Homo sapiens: one gene and its partners. The protein of the gene in region 1 purifies or fractionates together with the protein of each later gene. This does not show direct contact. Each region holds a gene or a part of one and is shown on either strand. Other genes may lie near its edges.

Evidence for each region.
Region 2: the proteins of H2AB1 (region 1) and CYBA purify together in Homo sapiens (affinity purification with mass spectrometry; one large-scale study listed by BioGRID and IntAct). This does not show direct contact.
Region 3: the proteins of H2AB1 (region 1) and RAB15 purify together in Homo sapiens (affinity purification with mass spectrometry; one large-scale study listed by BioGRID and IntAct). This does not show direct contact.
Region 4: the proteins of H2AB1 (region 1) and LBR purify together in Homo sapiens (affinity purification with mass spectrometry; one large-scale study listed by BioGRID and IntAct). This does not show direct contact.
Region 5: the proteins of H2AB1 (region 1) and APOBEC3A purify together in Homo sapiens (affinity purification with mass spectrometry; one large-scale study listed by BioGRID and IntAct). This does not show direct contact.
Region 6: the proteins of H2AB1 (region 1) and LUC7L purify together in Homo sapiens (affinity purification with mass spectrometry; one large-scale study listed by BioGRID and IntAct). This does not show direct contact.

What each region holds. Positions count from the first base shown.
Region 1 is NC_000023.11:154,883,634-154,886,058, reverse strand, and holds H2AB1 (histone H2A-Bbd type 1), read right to left. Parts: upstream 1,088-2,425; 5' UTR 1,010-1,087; coding exon 662-1,009; 3' UTR 501-661; downstream 1-500. UniProt on the Homo sapiens protein: Atypical histone H2A which can replace conventional H2A in some nucleosomes and is associated with active transcription and mRNA processing.
Region 2 is NC_000016.10:88,645,422-88,648,053, reverse strand, and holds part of CYBA (cytochrome b-245 light chain), read left to right. Parts: coding exon 1-9; intron 10-878; coding exon 879-953; intron 954-1,215; coding exon 1,216-1,299; intron 1,300-1,856; coding exon 1,857-1,938; intron 1,939-2,624; coding exon of another isoform or gene 2,625-2,632. UniProt on the Homo sapiens protein: Subunit of NADPH oxidase complexes that is required for the NADPH oxidase activity that generates, in various cell types, superoxide from molecular oxygen utilizing NADPH as an electron donor.
Region 3 is NC_000014.9:64,945,316-64,948,336, forward strand, and holds the end of RAB15 (ras-related protein Rab-15), read right to left. Parts: 3' UTR 501-3,021; downstream 1-500. UniProt on the Homo sapiens protein: The small GTPases Rab are key regulators of intracellular membrane trafficking, from the formation of transport vesicles to their fusion with membranes.
Region 4 is NC_000001.11:225,401,002-225,404,038, forward strand, and holds the end of LBR (delta(14)-sterol reductase LBR), read right to left. Parts: intron 2,463-3,037; coding exon 2,302-2,462; 3' UTR 501-2,301; downstream 1-500. UniProt on the Homo sapiens protein: Catalyzes the reduction of the C14-unsaturated bond of lanosterol, as part of the metabolic pathway leading to cholesterol biosynthesis.
Region 5 is NC_000022.11:38,956,424-38,960,408, reverse strand, and holds the start of APOBEC3A (DNA dC->dU-editing enzyme APOBEC-3A), read right to left. Parts: upstream 2,801-3,985; 5' UTR 2,718-2,800; coding exon 2,689-2,717; intron 868-2,688; coding exon 723-867; intron 1-722.
Region 6 is NC_000016.10:208,950-212,449, forward strand, and holds part of LUC7L (putative RNA-binding protein Luc7-like 1), read right to left. Parts: intron 1-3,500. UniProt on the Homo sapiens protein: May bind to RNA via its Arg/Ser-rich domain.

The DNA of each region.
Region 1 (2,425 bases):
CCCACAGCCTCTCCATCTGAACATGACCCAAACGAAACTCGTGACCCTAATTCCATGTCTGCGCATTTCTAGACTGTTGTCCCCCCCCCCCCCCGCCCCGACTACTCAGTCCTCCGTCTTCCGGTCCAGGGCCCCTTGCCAAGCACCGGGTCCACCTCTCCGTCCCCACCCCGGTTGCCTTAGAAGTCCGTCCTGTCGCAACACTGCAGTCATGGTCTTGAGGCCCACCCGCCCCAACGAACACCATCATGCTGAGGACTTTCCCGGGCAGGCCCTGACTTGCTCAGAACCAGCGGGGGTGTCCCCTTCCCACCCAGGGCCACTCCCCTGCACTGTCACCCGGAGAGACTGCTCCTCTGTGCCATCCCTGGCTCCCACCCAACCCCAGACCCCCACCACCTCTCCATCCCTCCAGCTGTGGAGGTCTCACAACCCCCCAACCCATCTCACCGCCCCCCCACCCCCACCCCAAGGCAAAGTGACTGAAGCGGGCAGATGGCTTCCTTGAAACATTTTATTGACAGAATTAATGAAGGCCCAAGACTTTGGGGCCTGGGTTGTGGGGGGAGGGTGTTTAAGGCCGGGGGTTCAGGCCGGGGGATTTGGGGCCGGGTGGGTGGACGAGTGGACCTGTCAGGTCCCAGGGGCCGGGTGTCAGAAGCTAGTCCTCGCCAGGGGCCACTTGAGAGATGGTGGTCGTGTTGAAAAGGGTGCTCAGTAGCCTGTCGTTGTGAACCACCATGTCCAGCAGCAGGGGAGTGATGTTCCGCTCTCCGCTGTTCTGGGCCTCGTTGCCCGCCAGCTCCGGGACCTTGGCCGTCAGGTACTCAATAACCGCAGCGAGGTAGACCGGCGCCGTGCGACTCAGGCGCTGAGCGTAGTGGCCCTCCCGTAGACTGCGCTCCACCTGGCTCACTGAAAACGAAAGCTCCGCTCGGACGGTGCGAGAGCAGGTCCGCCCCCGGCCGCCAGCACCGGAGGACCCTCGGCGTCTCCTCCTCCTCGGCATGCTGGGCGTTGAGTGTGCTATCTCGGCTTGGCCCAGCTAGGCAAGATGGCTCTCAAGAGGACAGTTACCGCGTCCAGTACTGTGTATCCTAGCGACCAGGGCCCAGCCCCTCATTGGCTAGGGAGCCGAGACCAATGGGCACGCACATCCGGCGACGGGCACGCATGTGGTGACGGCCCCTCACAAGGGACACACGTCCGTCAGGTGACCTCATCACTTTCCCATTGGCCTCGAGGGAGCAGGCCTGGGCCTAGAAGTGGCTGGAGGGCCGTGGGGGTGGGGTGGGGCGGGGCAGGGGGAATCGCGCTGGTGACCCTCTCTTTGCCAGTGGGAACTTTCCCTTTCTACTGGATGGGAACACCGTGGGAAAGACAAAGGGGTGGGCGAGGGGAGGACGGGTACCACGCCTTCACAATGTTGCACATCCATCACGACCACCTAGTTCCAAAACGTTTTCAACACCCCGAAAAGAAACCGAAACCCCTGTACCTATAAGCAGTCACTTGCCGCACGCCTCCTTCCACACCACCACTACCAGCCCCCACACCCTCCCACACACACCCCCTGCCCCCGCCCATACACACGTTCCCGATAGTCCCTGGCAACCCCTAGTCCATCTGCTTTCTGTCCATAGAGGTTAGCCTGTTCTGGAGATTTCCTATAGATGGAATTATACGACCAAATGTGAGGCCGTGTGTGTCTGGCTGCTTTCACTTAGCGTAATGGTTTCATCAGGGTGCATCCATGTAGAGGCATGAATCACTACTTCCTTCCTTTGAATGACTGAGTACGATTCTGTTGTATGAATAGGAGGCCACATTTTGTTTACCCACTCGTCAGTTGATGGACAGGTTATTTCCCCCTTCTGGCTATTGTGAGTGGCACTGCCATGACCATCTCTCTACAGGTTTTTCTTTGAATATCTCTTTTCAGTTCTTTTGGGTCTATTTCTAGCAGTCAAACTGCTGGCTCGTGTGGTAATTCTGTTTAACTTATTGAGGAACCACCAAACTGATTTCCACAGCAGCTGTAATCTTTCGCATTCCCAACAGTAGTGCATGAGAGTCCCAATTTCTTCACAGCCTCATCAAAACCTGTTTTCTGTTTGCCTCATTTTGTTTTGTTTACAGTAGCCATCCTACTGGGTGTCAAGTGCTATCTCATGGTGGTTTTCATTCGTATTTCCCAAATGGCTAATGATGTTGCTGTGGTTTGAGTGCATCCCCCAAATTGTGTGTCTTGGAAACTTAATCCCCAAATTCACATGTTGATTGGAGGCGCAGCCTCTGAGACGGTAATTAGGATTAGATAAGGTCATCGGGGTGAGACCCCCAGGATGCGACTGGTGGCTTTATAAGAATAGGAAGAGAGGCCTGAAACGACATACACGCTCTTGCCCTCTCGCCGTGTGATACC
Region 2 (2,632 bases), on another chromosome or scaffold:
CTACTCCATGTATCCTTCCACCTGAGGCTGGGGTGGGCGGGGAACGCCCAGGGCAGAGCTGGGGAGCCACTTCACAGTGAGCTGTTTGCCTCCGCTCCCCACCACCGCAGCCAGGCTGGGACACAGGGTGGGCTGTGCACGGGTTGGGCAGCCCAGGCCCCAGCAGCCAGGCCCCTCGCCAGGACCATGTGGCGATCAGCGGCAGACCCGCCAGTCTAAGTCCTGGTGAGTGGTGGGCAGGGGGTGTCACCAGAGGGCCAGGGCCAGCACTGAGGCCTCCCTGTTGGACTGCTGGGATCCCCTCTGCCCGCTCCTGTCAGTCATCCCCCTTGACCGGCCCCTCTACCTCCTCTGCCCCATCTCAGCCCTGCCGCCCAGCCGGACCTTGCGACAAGGAGCACTGGGCAGGGTGGTGGGAGGGAGGGCGTGGGCAGCCCCGAGTGCCAGACCTGTTGGAACCTCCCGTGGCTGCCTCCTGGCTCTGTGACCTCAGGCAGTGGCTGCCCCCGACCTTTTTTGAGACAGGGTCTCGCTCTGTCCCCCAGGCTGCAGTGCAGTGGTGCAGCTGTGACTCATGGCAGCCTCCACCTGGGCTCAGGCCACCCTCTTACCTCAGCCTCTGGAGTAGCTGGGACCACAGGCACACACCACTGCACCTGGCTTTTAAATTTTTTGTAGAGATGAGGGTCTCACTATGTTGCCCAGGCTGGTCTCAAACTCCTGGGCTCCAGTGATCCTCCCGCCTCAGCCTCCCAAAATGCTGGGATTCCAGGCATGAGCCACCGTGCTCGGGCCCCTCTCTGTGTTGTCTTCAGTAAAGGGAGTTCCCTGTGGCCCCTCAGGCTGAGCTGGGCTGTTCCTTAACCACATGGCTTCAGTGTGGCGGGCGTGTTTGTGTGCCTGCTGGAGTACCCCCGGGGGAAGAGGAAGAAGGGCTCCACCATGGAGCGCTGGTGAGTCTCCTCCTGCTCTGGGGTCTCTCCGGGGGCTGCGGGGCCCAGGCAGGGCTCACAGGGTTGGGTGGAGCTTGGTTTCTCACTTGGAGGCTCCGGAACCAACCCTTTGGTGCTTGTGGGTAAACCAAGGCCGGTGCCTGCCCGGTGTGTTTTGTGGGAGGAAAGAGGCCTGGGTGCCCTGGGGTGGTCAGCAGGGCAGCAAAGGAGTCCCGAGTGGGAGAGGCCCAGCCGCGCCGTCTCGCCTTCCTCCCTCCCCCAGGGGACAGAAGTACATGACCGCCGTGGTGAAGCTGTTCGGGCCCTTTACCAGGAATTACTATGTTCGGGCCGTCCTGCATCTCCTGTGAGTCCCCGTCCCGCACCCCCTCTAGGGCTCAGGAGGGCTTGGAGCCGACCCTCCCCACTGTCCCACCGGCCGGGCTGCCTGGACAGGAGCCACCCCCACTTACCTCAGTGTTTTTCCAAACAAAAATTCGGGTCCCTGGCTCTGGCAGGGCCTGTGTCTGCTGTCTAGTGTGCAGGATTTGTAAGGATCCACTCCAAATCCGAGGAGCTCCGATCCGTCGCCAGGGTCTGGGGTCAGCATGCACTGCTGGGGGGTCTTGCCTGGGCTTCCTGGTAGGGTGGAGGGTTCCGTGCTGTGTGTCTGCTGGTTACTGCCGGCTGAGGCCAGGACACCCACACGTGGCTGCTTCCTCCGAGCAAGTGCACCAGAGCCGCTAGTGTCCACATCAAGGCTGAGAACACCCAGGACCGAAACAAGCCCCGGTCCGCGCACGTCCCCTGGGTCTGCAGTCTGCCTTGTCCTGAGACTTTGTGGCCTTGGCCCCCAGACCTGGGGCTCCGTTCCCCTTTCTGAGTGCCCTTCTGTGTCCCTGCCTCTCACCCGCTGTCCCCCAGGCTCTCGGTGCCCGCCGGCTTCCTGCTGGCCACCATCCTTGGGACCGCCTGCCTGGCCATTGCGAGCGGCATCTACCTACTGGTGAGTGGCGCCCTCTGAGGTCGGCCCCGGCCACCCCCATCCCCAGCCCCTGCCCTGACACCCTCGGACACGCATGGCCCTTGAAGCCGGCTCTGTAGGCTGAGCCAAGGCTGGGAGCAAGTGTGAGCCTGGGCGTGTGCTCACAGCACGGCGGGGACGCAGCGGTTGCTGCTGCCATTTTTGGCGTGTCTAGTGTGTCGGGTCATTTCCTTGCATTTCCTCATTAACCCGCACCACAGCCCTGGGAGGGGTACTGGGGTCCCCACTTTACAGACAAAGATGCGGAGGCTCAGGGAGGTGCTGTGACTGGCCTGGGGTCACGCAGCCGGCCGAAGACCGTGCCTGCGCTTGGGTCCCATTATCAGGCTTTTCTCACCTAAACCCTATTCGCGCTGATTCATGGGCGGTGCCAGGACGCAGACATTTTCTTAAACTGCCGACACCTGCGTTTGGTTTATGACTGCTGCACCCTGTTAGAAGGCTGCCCATCCCATGGGATACAGTGATCTCTCTGAGAGGCCAGGGATGGGTGGGAGGACAGGGCGCAGCCTGGCCAGGCCTTGGGTGAAATGCCCTCTGCCTGCCCTGGGCTCCGGAACAGACGGCTGCAGGCCACCTCTCACTGCGGGGGTCTCTGGGTGGACAGAGCCCTCAGACTTTGCTTATTTAAATCCTTTTGTCCATAGAGCCAAGT
Region 3 (3,021 bases), on another chromosome or scaffold:
TCCTTTCTTCATTCAGTCCTTATCCCCAATATTCTCCACCTCCATCAATTCCATATCCCAAAGTATGAAATACCTGCAGTCCTGAGATCCCAGTCTGCCTCTGCTCCCCCGAGGTATCCAATCACAAATCTGAAAGATTATCCAGTCCCACCTCATGCCTTCAGGAAGACCCGTTCCTGACCCACACAAACAGATGAGACTCATCTTGGCTTTAAAACCTGCTCATAGATGTTCAGCATCCTCTCGATAACTGTGTTTCATCTTATTTCTGCAGTGCCAGCCCAATGCAGGGCAACGGGGCTTTGCTTTGGGCCTCCCTGCAGGTGGCACTAGGGAAGGTAGAGAAGGGAAGACAATGTTTGCCGCTTCCGTGGTCACTCTACTGCTGTTGCCTTTGCTTCTGGAGCTGCTTCTACCAGCACTGCCTCTCTCCCTCCCACATCACTGCCAGGGTCTGAGTGAGACCTACCCCCAAGGACTCATCCAGGCAGCCACACCGGTGGTTTGAAATAATCTTTATTTTGTAAACATCTGTGTTTAAAATAGATGAACCCTGCTCACAATTCATATATGGACCCGAGACACAGTACACGAAGTTCACCCGTCACAGGGAGATAGTGGAGGCTCAGGAGCAGGTGGCGTGCCTGGGGCTGGATGGAGTCTCAAGACAGCAGGTGCAGAGGTGGTGACGAGTAAACAGGCCAGCAGAGCCTGGTTAACAGTCTGGGCCTCAAGACATGCCCCAGGCCACCAAAAGTTTAGGGTGAGCGTAGCTGCACCCTAAAATCCCAATTCTCCTTCTGCTCCCATACCTTTTCCCAGTCATGGCCCTTGTGGATAGGGCCTATCAGTCTATAGAATCCTGATTCCATGTTTTCCCTTCCAGAACCCCTAGGGTACAGTACAAATATAGTCCTTCTTTCCTGAGGGGGCTAGGAGAGAAAGACAATGAATGGCACCCTGCCTGATCTTCAGGGAAAGCTGAAATACTGGTCCACAGATTGGAGCCACTGCCCAATATAACTTCTCAAGTCCCTGGCTGAAGACAGACTTGAGGGCTGGCATCACCTACTTCCCTAGCCCCAGTGTGATGTGGCATAGGTCTTGATACCCAAGGAGTCCCATCTTCAAGGAAGCAACTCCAGCCTAGTCACAGCTTCATCCTAGAGTTAGCTGTCTCCTTTTCTCATTAGCCAGTGATTTACAACTTCCTGCTCTCCTTTGCTTTCCACCATCTAAGCTATACCCTGTCCCTAAGTCCTGAGCCACCCTCTCCTGCTGTTTTCCTGGTTTGGTAAGTCAGGAGGAAAGGTTTGATGGTTCTTTCCCCACTTCTTTTTGGAGGAGTAAGGAAGTGAGGTTCTTATCCTTCACATATGAGTGCCCTGGATTTTGGTTCTTAGTTGATGAATACTCAACACCCAGTTCTTTGTTTTGGCTGCAGCCACGCAGTGCAGCTAATGTGTGGCTTAAGAATGACCCTCTTCCTAGGCCTCGCCCACCTTGGGACGGTGGGCAGGAACCCCAGTAGAACTGGTAAATTACTTGTTCCGTCTTTAAAGGGCCTCCTACGAGCTACTCTTGGGCCATATGGGGTTAAAGAAACTTCCTGAACATAGCACTCTGGAGGAAGGAGTCCTCTTCCCTCCACCTGTAGCCACAGTGTGGTTGGCAAACCCTCAAGCCTATCAGGAGGTAGAGGGCAAGATGAGCGCTTTGTCTTAAAGGCCAAAGAGAACAGCACCAAGCGTTTCTACCCAGGGCCTTCCTTCTCTCTTCCCATGAAGTCTTTGCCCTTCTCCCATAAACTTTGGGTCCCAGGAGAACCTTGGTTGCTGAAGGCTAGGCTCAGTCCTCCGCCTGGGAGTCTGAGGAAATGCTCTTCTTACCTAAGAAATGGAAGATGGGGCCTAGGAGGCCCTGCTGTTGCTACATTCCCCTCTGCTGTGCAAACTGCTGTCCCTGGCCAGCTCTCCCTTGCTCTTAACCTGATACATAGGAGCTAGTCCTTCATTTCCAAATGCTCCCCTTTGTGGAGTGCATGGTTGGCCTGACAGTGTCACTGACCCCAGGGCTCTCCTTGCCCCTGGAGTACCCACAGGCCTTGGTCCACATCTTTAAATTTGGGAGCCAGGTGGAGAGAAATTGTGTTCATGCTGCATGGGAGGTAGAGAATGGAGGTGACTTTTTATCCCTGCCACCCCTCATTTTGTTTCCTTCTCTGAAGCACCTGCCTCTGAGCTCAGTTCCCCAAAGAGGCAGGCGGGCAGCCAAGCAAGGGCAAAGCTCTGGTCGGGGAATGGGTAGAGGTAGGGCAGCCCCAGGCTCGAGGACTCCCTGGTTGCCGTTTCCCTCCTACCTCGATGCTCCACTTTCGCAGGTCACTGGGGAGGCAGGCCCATGGCACATGAGGGACAGTGGGGGTGGGGGAAGAGGAAGAAGCACCCTGTAGCCTTTGGCCCACCCACGAGGCAGGGTGGAGGGTTCTTCCTGGATCCAAGGGTGGAACCTCCCCACGAGCCTGGGTCCATCCCCTTGGATAGCTTAGGAAGGAAGGAAAGAGCGAGCTGCACACAGCAGGACACACGGGGGACGGGGTTTGAGGAGCTTTGATACGAAACGCACCGGAGGGGAGGGGTCAGAGAAAGAGAAGTGGGGGAAGAGAGAAAAAGCAGAGAAGAGACACGATGCACGGAGAAAGGAGCAGCTGAAAGTGGCCTGGACTCCAGCCCTGGCTGTTGTCTGGTGGGTGCGGGATGGTGAGACAGTGCTTGCGGCACATCGTGGGGGTCGTAGCAGGCCTGTGGCTGGGGAAACAGGCTGAAGAAGACCACTCCAGGGTGGACGGGCTGGGGACAGGGGCTGCTTGAGATGACAGCAGAGCCGCTCTCAGGGCCAGGCAGGGGGAGTAGTGGCTACTGATACTCAATAGGGTCATCACACGAGAGGACAGCAGCAGGGCAAAGCCCCGGCTCCCCTGTCTGCCCACGGGCCTCCTGAGGGAAGAGGGGTGTCGTGTGG
Region 4 (3,037 bases), on another chromosome or scaffold:
CACATTTTGCAATGTAATGTCACAATGTAACGTCGCAGCAGGAAGAATTGAGAGGTGAAGCTGTCTGATCTCATCTCACAATTCAGGCTTAGAGTCAACTGGAAATCCAAACAAGCACTAAAGCACGGTCAGCAGGCACAGTACATGTGTGTGTCTCGTGTGTCTCTCACACACGTACTGTCTTTCAAATGCACAGATGCTTCTGTGATTCATACAAATGCATTTGAAAGTATGACTGGATCTACAATAGTTTTAGCATTTCTGTATTTTCTCAAACAGCAAATACTAAACACATGACCATTTTCTGGGAGTTAGGATTCCCAACTAACCCCTTTGAGTTCCAACATTCTGAGAGTTTTAAACAGCAGTTGGCCAGGGGTCCCAAACAGATGATCCTAGGAAAACAGGAGGCTGGGCAGGGGTGGGAATCTAAGGGCTCCTGTCTTGGTCCCAAAAATCTCAGTTTCAAGCAAGAAAGGGAAAAAAAAAAGGCTCCAAAGTGATCAAAATGTTGCTACATTTTATTTTCAACTTAAAACTTCATTATAAAATTTGCCAAATAAACATGTCAAAAACAAACTTAAAAACAAAGTGTAGCTGATATCCAGAAATTGCAGCACTGTATTGATAAAGGGCTCTTTTCATTACCAGGGAAAGAATTTAATGTCCTTCCTTCCTCCCCAAAAGCTTCCTTGGTGCAATCCAGTACAGAAAACGCCACCACTTTCTGATGCCAGGAGAAAAGCAAAATAAAAAAACTGCTTGCACACATTAGCACTGATAAAACAATGACAATTTCACTAAAAGAATGTTTAAAGACTACCGGATGCTGGAGCAAACCAACTTCATGACTGCATTAACATAAGCTAAGTTACATACACTTCAAATGCAGTATAGAATTAACACTGCATATCTAAATGGCTCATATATAAAATGTGTAATTAAAACCCAAACATACACACTATGTTTATTACATTCCCCTACATTGAAAGTACTGAGAACAATTTAACTCTGAACACAAAAGTTTAGTGAATTTGCTACTGTTCCATTACAGGACAATTAAAAATGAGACTATATCAACTTCACTAGAATTTAATTGCTAAAGCTACCTTATGCACATCTATTAAACTAAAAGAAACGACTTTAACCCCTTCAGTTGTTTTTAAGACAGCACTCCTTTACAGGGAGTCAGGTTTGGTAAATATAAAGGATACATAAAAAATACAGTATAAACTGCATAAGCTTAACAGTAGCAAAAACACTGATGAACTTTTAAAAAGTCAAAAATATATAAAAATATTAGCCTGAAATGGCAAATTTTCAAACACCGATCTGTGTAAAAATGTTTAAATATTGATGTTACTCCAAAAATATATACTTATTCTATTTTTTTTCTATTTGCAACAGTTTATAAAGGCAAACAAACACCTGCAATTGAGGTAGCAAAGCCAAATTCACAAACTTTGGATCAAGAAAAATACCCTTCCTATGTTTTAACAGCATCTTCTATACAATAGTGAATGAATTCTAATTGTTCCAAAATTTTTAATTCACATTACTTTACAAAATTTTATTTAAAATACTGAAAATGTTTTGTTAAAAAGACAGTTAGTCCTGACAATCATCTCACATTCAAAATACTGTACAAAAAAATCTGAAGTCACCATATATTACAAAAAACTAAGCTATGTATTTACATTTTCAATGTAGTTTTAGAAGTTGAGGTTAAGCCAACTGCTACAAATGGTCTCCTTTAAGCAGTGTCTGCTAATAATGTCATCACTTTTCACTTTCAGCATTTAATATAGGCCCTTCTTTTTGCTTTCAAATTATATAATTAGTAAAGGATTTAAAGAAAAACAAATGAAAATTCTATTCTCTTACTGAATAAAACATAAATGTACTTTAAATGGAACAGTGTTTTCATTTAAGAAAAGCCAACTGGCAAAAAAACATCAAAATTTGAAAAGTAATCAGAAACCATAAACATCAATAGCATTCTTCACAGTACATTTATATTAAGACTGTCTTCTGTTTTCAGATTAAGGGTTGAAAATTTCCCATTAAAATGCAAATTCTCACATCCTTACTTGTATTTTTCCTATGTTAACTGTAAGTTAATACAAGTAAACACGGCTATATTAAAAGATCAACTACTCGGCTCCATAGTCCTGACTCAAAAAGAAAAAAAAAAGTACAGACCCTGTCAGTGCAACAAAAGAAAGTTTCGGATTTTTTTCCTTGTTTTTGCAAATGGCAGCTGGAATTGCAGGAGTATTTTGTAGAAAAGCCAGAAGAGCATTAGTAGATGTATGGAAATATACGGTAGGGCACACGCTGACAGTACTTTTCCCAAGCCACGCCGTATTTCTTCTTACAGTGGTACTCGTCACGAGCTTCTCGGTGGACAAGCAACATGGTGAAATAAATTATGTAGAAATAAGGCAGAATGTGGTTAAAACCTGTGGATAATAATAGTACACAGTATTAGATATTTTTATTATCACTACAATGTATTTTTTCCTGCTTTCCCCCAAATTCTCTAAAAATGGAACCACAAGGTACTTCATTTTCTCTAATAATGATGAGAATAATTAAACAAGTCTGTAAAATCCCACTGGAAAGTGGCAGAAGGTCGTATCTAAATTAGAAGCTACTCAAAGACTGATGAATCCATTCTAACAATCCATCACAATCAAAACATCTGTCCTCATAGTTAATACACATCTCTTCATTTCTCGCCCTTCTTCCCCCAGCAAAGAAGAAAAACTGCTGTCTTCCACCACAGGCTGGGCCACCAAACAGGCAGCAGGCACGGGCCAGCTCCTCCACCTCCACCAGCTCCCCTGGATCCCCCTGCTCCCCCAGTTCCCCCAGCTCCCCCAGCTTCCCAAGATCCCCCTGCTCCCCCAGTTCCCCCAGCTCCCCTGGCTCCACCAGTACCTCCAGCTCCCCCTGACACCCCAGCTCCCCAAGCACCTCCAGCTCCCACAGCTCTCCCTGCTCCCCTGCTTTCCCAGCTCCCCACGAGGCCAGA
Region 5 (3,985 bases), on another chromosome or scaffold:
GTCGTTCCTGGGGGAGTCCCACTGCTTAGGCGGTGATGGAGACTGGCACCCTTGAAAGGATGTTCCAAGCAGTGTGTGTGGATCCAGCGAGGCCCACATTGAGCTCATAGAGCCCAGAGAAGGTCCCAGTTTCCAGCACCGGAGCCAAGCATTACCTGGTCTCTCCAGACAGAGGCTGTGCTGGGTAGGGGCCAGGGAAGAAAGTCCCCCGGGCTCAGGGCCCCTCAGCCTGGCCTGGCCCAGCTCCTCCCCAAATGCTGGACATCCCTGCATCCTGACATGGGACCTGTTCTGGCCTTGCTGTGGGCTCCACCCTGGGCAGGACAGGATCCCTGGTCAGCCTCTCCTGCCTCAGTCTCTCTCCGTGCAGGATGAAGCCCAGGAGAGGGCACTGGGGCATCCTGGCCTTGTGAGGTCAGGTAGGCCCTGAGTCCTCAGATCCCACATTGCTGAATTGTTCCTGGTGAGAGCTGTGTCTGTGAGGGGATCCTGGGAGGGTCCTCAGGAAGCACTTTGCCATTGGGCAGACTCAACCCCACCTGGGCATGGATAGTCACTGAAGCCGAAGTCTCCCCCCAACCCCAGGGCCAAGCAGCAGCAGCTGCAGGAAGCACAAGTGACAAACACTGCAGGAAACCACAAGTACAATCCGGAACCTTCTACCTATGAATGTCCCTGGATTGGAAGGGCCCTGCCCGGATTCGGATGGCTGGGTCGGTCACCTGGTTGTGTAGAAAGCCCCTGTGCTGGTCCATCTTGACCGAGGTGCCATTGTCCAGGCGCTCCACTTCGTAGCACAGGTAGGTCTTATGCCTTCCAATGCCATTGTTAAAGTTGGAAGTGAATATGTGTGGATCCATCAAGTGTCTGTGGACAGCCAGGGAAAAGACCAGAGGAGGAAGAGCCCTCCTGGACTGCCCTGCCTCCTCCTCCCTCCCCACACTTCCTCCCTTGCACCCCACCCTCCTTCCCCCTGCTCCGCACATCCCTTAGCACACTTCCAAACCTCCCCCTCTGACCCCTTCTATGGCTCACTGGGAGATCACTGCAGCCCTGGGGCCTGTCTAAGCCTTGTCAGGGTCTCCCCAGGGTCAGCTCAGTGTGCTCAGGCCCTCCGAGGAGGACCCTGCTCCTCTCCCTGGGGTAGAGCTGGGTCTTATTCTGTGGCCTCACCATGCACCCCTGTCCTGGCTCTGCTCACCCACAGCCCCTGCTGGAGATGGACCCTCTGGGGCTTCCTCCTGCCTGCAGGGTTAACTCCTACCACACCGAGCATCGGGACAGGGACACTCCTGAGGGGGATGACTGGGGAGAGGAACCTGCCAGGGACTTCTTTTCGGGTAATTCATAGGATTTTCCACATCCCTTAGGGTGCCCTGAGGTCTCCCAAATGTGCTTCTCAGGCAATTGAGATGGGGCAGCTCAGGACTCCTGGGCTGGAAACACCAGCCCCACCTTGAAGACCTCTCCCAGCCCCTCTCTATGCATCCTGACATAATCAGAATTAGAAAAATCTCTGTTGGGAGGCAGCACAAAAGAAAGAAAGAAAGAAGGAAAGAGAAAGAAGGAAGGAAAGAAAGAAAGAAAGAAGGAAAGAGAAAGAAGGAAGGAAAGAAAGAAAGAAAGAAAGAAAGAAAGAGAAAGAGAGATGGAGGAAGGAAGGAAGGGAGGGAGGGAGGAAGGAAGGAAAAGAAAAAGAAGGAAAGAAAGAAAGAAAAAAGAAAGGAAGGAAAAGAAAGAAAGAAGGAAAGAAGAAAGAAAGAAAAGAAAGAAAAAAGAAAGGAAGGGAGGGAGAAAGGGAGAAAGAGAGGAAGGAAGGAAGAAAGGAAGGAAAGGAAAGAAGAAAGAGAGGAAGGAAGGAGGGAGGAAGGAAGTAAAAGAAAGAAAGAAGGAAAGAATGAAAGAAAAAGAAAGAAAGAAGGAAAGAAAGAAAGAGAAAGGAAGGAAGGGAGGAAGAGAGAAAGGGAAATATTGGAAGAAAGGAAGGAAGCACAGAAGGGAAGGAAGGAGGGAGGGAAGAGAGAGAAAGAAGAAAAAGAAATAAAGAAGGAAAGAGAGAGAGAGAAAGAAAGAAGAAAGAAAGAGAGAGAGAATTGAAGGAAGGAAGGAAGGAAGGAGGAAGGAAGGAAGGAAAGAAGGAAGGAAGGTTCAAAATGTTCCCCACCATTTCGAGTAGACCTGGGCATGAATCTGGGCTCTACCACTCACTTGCTCTGTGTTCTCAAAAAAAGGAAACAAGGCTTCCTCATAGCCAAGCAGTCCTACAAGCAACCCCCTTTTCTTAATATTAGGGAGAACGAGATGACACTGAACATAAAAAGGGCTTAGGCCAAGTCCAGATACATGGAACATTTGCAAGAAATAGTAGATGCTCATTTAAAGACAAGTGAGGAGAATCCCCTCTCTGACCGTCTTCACTGGCTGGGGCACAGCACCATTATCTATTGGGATTTTCAGGCTCCCTGTGCACCTGCCCCGGGAGGTGGAAGGAGACCTGGAATTGGTACCATCGGAGGAGAGACCAGCGCTGGGACCAAAACTGGGAACCTAGAGCAAGAGGCCAGGTCCAGAGAGAGGGTCAGGAGGAAAAGAGAGGCCCCAGGGGTTTGAGGGTGAGAGGTGAGTGCTCATCAGAAAAGCTCAAAGAGGAGGCTGAGGCGCAGAGGTGCTCGGAGGGGCTTCCCATACCTGGGCCCGGATGCTGGGCTGGCTTCCATGTGCTTGTCCCTTCTCGGTTCCTGGTCTGTGTCCTCCCGCTCTTGCGACTTGCTCAAGGCGTGGTGTTAAGATCTTCACCAACATTCTCTTAGGATTCAGGAGCCTTAATATATCATCAGAGCAACCTGGAAGCTGCTGAGTCAGCGATACCCTGCCCCACCCCTTCTCCAGCTCAGGCCGAGTGTGCCACCCTCATTAGCGTCAGAACAAGGAAGTTCTCTGCCATGCCTCTGGGCAAGCTTTGGTTTTGATGTGCCCACTCTGACCACTGAACCACCAGACACTGTGGAGTGACAATGGGGATGTAGAGCTGGCCACACTTTGCTCCCTGTGGGCCACAGGAATCTGGAAGGCAGGAGACCAGGGGGCAGGTGAGAAGACAGGTGTCCACACCCTGGAGAAAGACCCTGAATAACACTCAGCGGTCCAGAGAGCAGGCTCCAGGACAGCCACCCCTGTGTCCTCCCCTGTGGCCAGTGCAGGATGTGCCTGGTCCAGGCTCCCTGGCACCTGCTGCATCCTGTGCTCTCTGTTAGGGTCCTGCATCTTCTTCCCTGGCTGTGAAGATGGGAGACCAGCAGGTCCTGCATCCTCCTATGCATCAGTGTATCTAATAATTGTAAACTAGAGGGAGGAGTGTTTTCATCCCCATTACCCAGAGGAGATGCTAAAGGCTCTGAAAGGTACCTAGAGATCCAGGCCCTCCCAGGAAACAGAGTCCCCAGCAGGGACACACCCCCACCCCCCTGTCAGAAGGGCCACCCTGTGCCCTTTCTCCCACCTCTGGGCCCTGCAGAAATGTGAGGGACACTGTGCTCCTGCCCCAAGTGAGCCCCTGAGTCCTGGCGGCAGGTCTGGCGCCGTCCTTTCCCAGGTCCACCTGCTACACCCAGCACAGCTGCCCCTGGAAGGTGCTGGCCCTGTGGGCCCAGGGGCTGTCCCCTGTCCTGCCTGCTCCCCTGTTCTGGCTCTTACTAGACCCCCCTGTCTTTGGCCAGCAATCCTCCCACCTCAGCACAGTGTCCCTGCCATTTTGGTGGGCGCCACAGACTAGAAGAGGCCCTGTTCTCTGCCGTGAGGACCCCTCCCATTCTGTCTCCAGATGTTGGACTCTTCTAGTCAAGAAGATGTCCCCTGGGGGCAGTCAACTGCCATTTGAGTCTCAGGTGGTTCTGGTGTGAGCTCATCTTGGTGTGTTGTGTGAGTCTGACCAGAGGCCACCCTTCCCAGTTCACACCAGAGGCATGCACAGCTGGACGCCCCGCAG
Region 6 (3,500 bases), on another chromosome or scaffold:
CTTTGTGAGGCCAAGGTGGGCGGATCATGAGGTCAGGAGTTCAAGACCAGTCTAGCCAACATGGTCTCTAATAAAAATACAAAAATTAGCTGGGCATGATAGCGGGTGCCTGTAATCCCAGCTACTCAGGTGGCTGAGGCAGGAGAATCGCTTGAGCCTCGGAGGCAGAAGTTGTAGTGAACTGAGACCAGACCACCACACTCCAGCCTAGGCAACAGAGCAAGACTCCGTATCAAAAACAAAAACAAAAACAAAAAAAGGCAGGGCCCAGTGGCTCACACCTGTAATCCCTGCACTTTGGGAGGCCGAGGCGGGAGGATCCATGAGGTCAGAGGTTCAAGACCAGCCTTCCCAATACAGTGAAGCCCCATCTCTACTAAAAACATAAAAATTAGCTGGGCGTGGTAGCATGCACCTGTAGTTCCAGCTACTCAGGAGACTGAGGCAGAAGAATCGCTTGAACCTGGGAGGAAGAGGTTGCAGTGAGCCGAGATGGCACCACTGCACTCCAGCCTGGGCAACAGAGCAAGATTCCATCTCAAAAAAAAAAAAAAAAAATAGGGCATCACTTTTCCGACTGTCAGCCAGTGACCAGTAGTAAGAAACACTAACATTAAACCATGAGTCAGCTTGCTAATGTCAGCATCATGATAAACATAAATAAGTTTGTTTTGCAATGATGACAAGGTTAGATAGCATGATCTTTTACCAAAAACTAAATTTTAGGTGGAGATGAGAAGGCAGATGACAGGAAAACACTAAGGGGTGATAACCTAAGTCACCGCTCCTAAAACAGACAGGAGACAGTAGGTCAGCTGTAATAAACTGCTCCACAATGGATTACACAGACACTGGAGAAGATTGTGATCTTCTCTAGAAATCTTAAATATTTTTTTCAAAAACATGCATACTTGGGAGTAGGTAAGATAGGGAAGAACCTCCAAGTCTCCTGGTGCCCAGTCTCCCAAGAAGCTGGAGAAAGCACAAGCAGCATCACTGATGAAGGCTGACTCCCAGATATCACTCCATAATTTTGGAATTCAAAAACTGCCTCTTGGCCAGGCGTGGTAGCTCACGCCTGTAATCCCAGCACTTTGGGAGGCCAAGGCGGGTGGATCACTTGAGGTCAGGAGTTCGAGACCAGCTTGACCAACATGGAGAAACCCCATCTCTACTAAAAATACAAAATTAGCCACGAGTGGTGGTGCATGCCTGTAATCCCAGCTACTTCGGAGGCTGAGGCAGGAGAACTGCTTGAACCTGGGAAGCAGAGGTTGCAGTGAACTGAGATCGCGCCATTGCACTCCAGCCTGGGCAACAAGAGCGAGACTCCCTCTCAAAAAAATACATAAACTGCTTCTTGTTGGTCACCCAGATATTCTCTAGTCAACATTTCAGTATGTTCAAATCAAAGAATCAGGAAAACAAATGATCCGGCATTTGACTGCTTCTATGCACCTGTACACTGGACTTTCTGGAAAGGTGAAGAGCTGGCTGGAGCTCATCAGGATCCAAGTATTAAGGAGCTGACAAGGGTCACTGTGCCTTCTCTTCTGTGCTTACCTCAGACAACAGCCCCTAACAGACCAGTCTGAGATGCTCCAGGTTCACCCACACAGTGGCCCTGTACTGTCTGCTCAAGCTGAGCAATCAATCACCAACCTGAGACAGATTCAGGGATTCACTCGAGGGGTCAAATGGGAAATAGGCAGCTGACAACTCTCCCAATACCTAAACCCATCAAAGCAATTACCTGCACCTTAAGCAGAATCCAAATTGGCTATGGACTCAGATGTCTGATAACCTAAAAACTAAATGGTGGCCGGGCGTGGTGGCTCACGCCTGTAATCCCAGCACTTTGGGAGGCTGAGGTGGGCGGATCACGGGGTCAGGAGATCGAGACCACCCTGGCTAACACAGTGAAACCCCGTCTCTACTAAAAATACAAAAAATTAGCCGGGCGTGGTGGCGGGCGCCTATAGTCCCAGGTACCCGGGAGGCTGAGGCAGGACAATGGCATGAACCCGGGAGGTAGAGCTTGCAGTGAGCAGAGACTGTGTGCCACTGCACTCCAGCCTGGGTGACAGGGCAACACTCCGTCTCAAAAAAAAAAAAAGAACACTAAATGGTAGGCCCAGCACGGTGGCTCACGCCTGTAATCCCAACACTTTGGGAGTCTGAGACCAGCCTGGCCAGTATGGTGAAACCCCATCTCTACTAAAAATACAAAAAATTAGCCAGGCGTGGTGGCGGGCACCACTGGTTGCTATTTACCCAAAGAGATAGAGGAAAAGAAACTCTAGACGTCTAATTGCTTACTCTGAAAAGGGTGGTGGGAAACACTAAAAGAACTATCATATGCTAAGGTTAATTCGCCTTACGAGGTGAATCCCAGCTACAAGGGAGGCTGAGGCAGGAGAATCGCTTGAACCTGGGAGGCGGAGGTTGCAGTGAGCCAAGATCACGCCACTGCACTCCAGCCTGGGCGACAGAGCAAGACTGGCTCAAACAGAAAACAACAACTATAAATGGTAAACTTCACAACAGAGAACAAGCCAACCAAGAGCTGCCAAGTTCTTTAAAAGGTGGCTTTCTGTTCTACTGCCCTCTCCCTTCAAAGTGTTTCTCAACTTTAGCCTGTTTCTTAAAAGAGCAGATCTAAATGATAAAAAAAAGACATTCGATTCCAAAAATTAAGTCCTAATCACAACCTACCACTTACTAGAAAGTCACCCAATCTCTCTCTATCTCTGAGTAGCGTTATGAAACATAAACCCTAAAAGCCCCTGAGCACAGACAGCACCAGCACAAAGACTTGTGTCCTAACAGTATGGCAAAACTGGACAATATCAGCACACGTCATCTCCACTGAGGAGGCTGTCCCTCCACACACGGACTGCCTGGTGCTGTTACCAGCTCTCCCGGCCCAGCAGCACTGACACAGGCCGGTGGTCACTGAGCCTGAGAAAAGCCCATGATGTCAGTCAGAACTGTCACAGCAGACAGGTGCCCTTGTGCTGCACTAGGCACGTGCGCTAAACACCTCCAAAGAGCCGCAGAGGGGCCGGGCGCGGTGGCTCACGCCTGTAATCCTAGCACTTTGGGAGGCTGAGGTGGGTGGATCACCTGAGGTCAGGAGTTTGAGATCAGCCTGACCAACAAGGAGAAACCCCATCTCTACTAAAAATACAAAATTACCCAGGCGTGGTGGTGCATGCCTGTAATCCCAACTACTCAGGAGGCTGAGGCAGGAGAATCACTTGAACTCGGGAGGCGGAGGTTGCAGTGAGCTGAGATCGTGCCATTGCACTCCAACCTGGGCAACAAGAGCGAAACTCCATCTCAAAAAACACAGCCGCAGAGGAGCTCGTCGGGTCTCCATTGCATGGATGATGAAAGTGAAGCACAGCTACCAAACCACTAAGTAAGCAATGGAGTCAGGATCCAAGGACCCTTGTGGTCTGGCTCCAAAGACCTGCACTTCATCCTCACAAATCTGA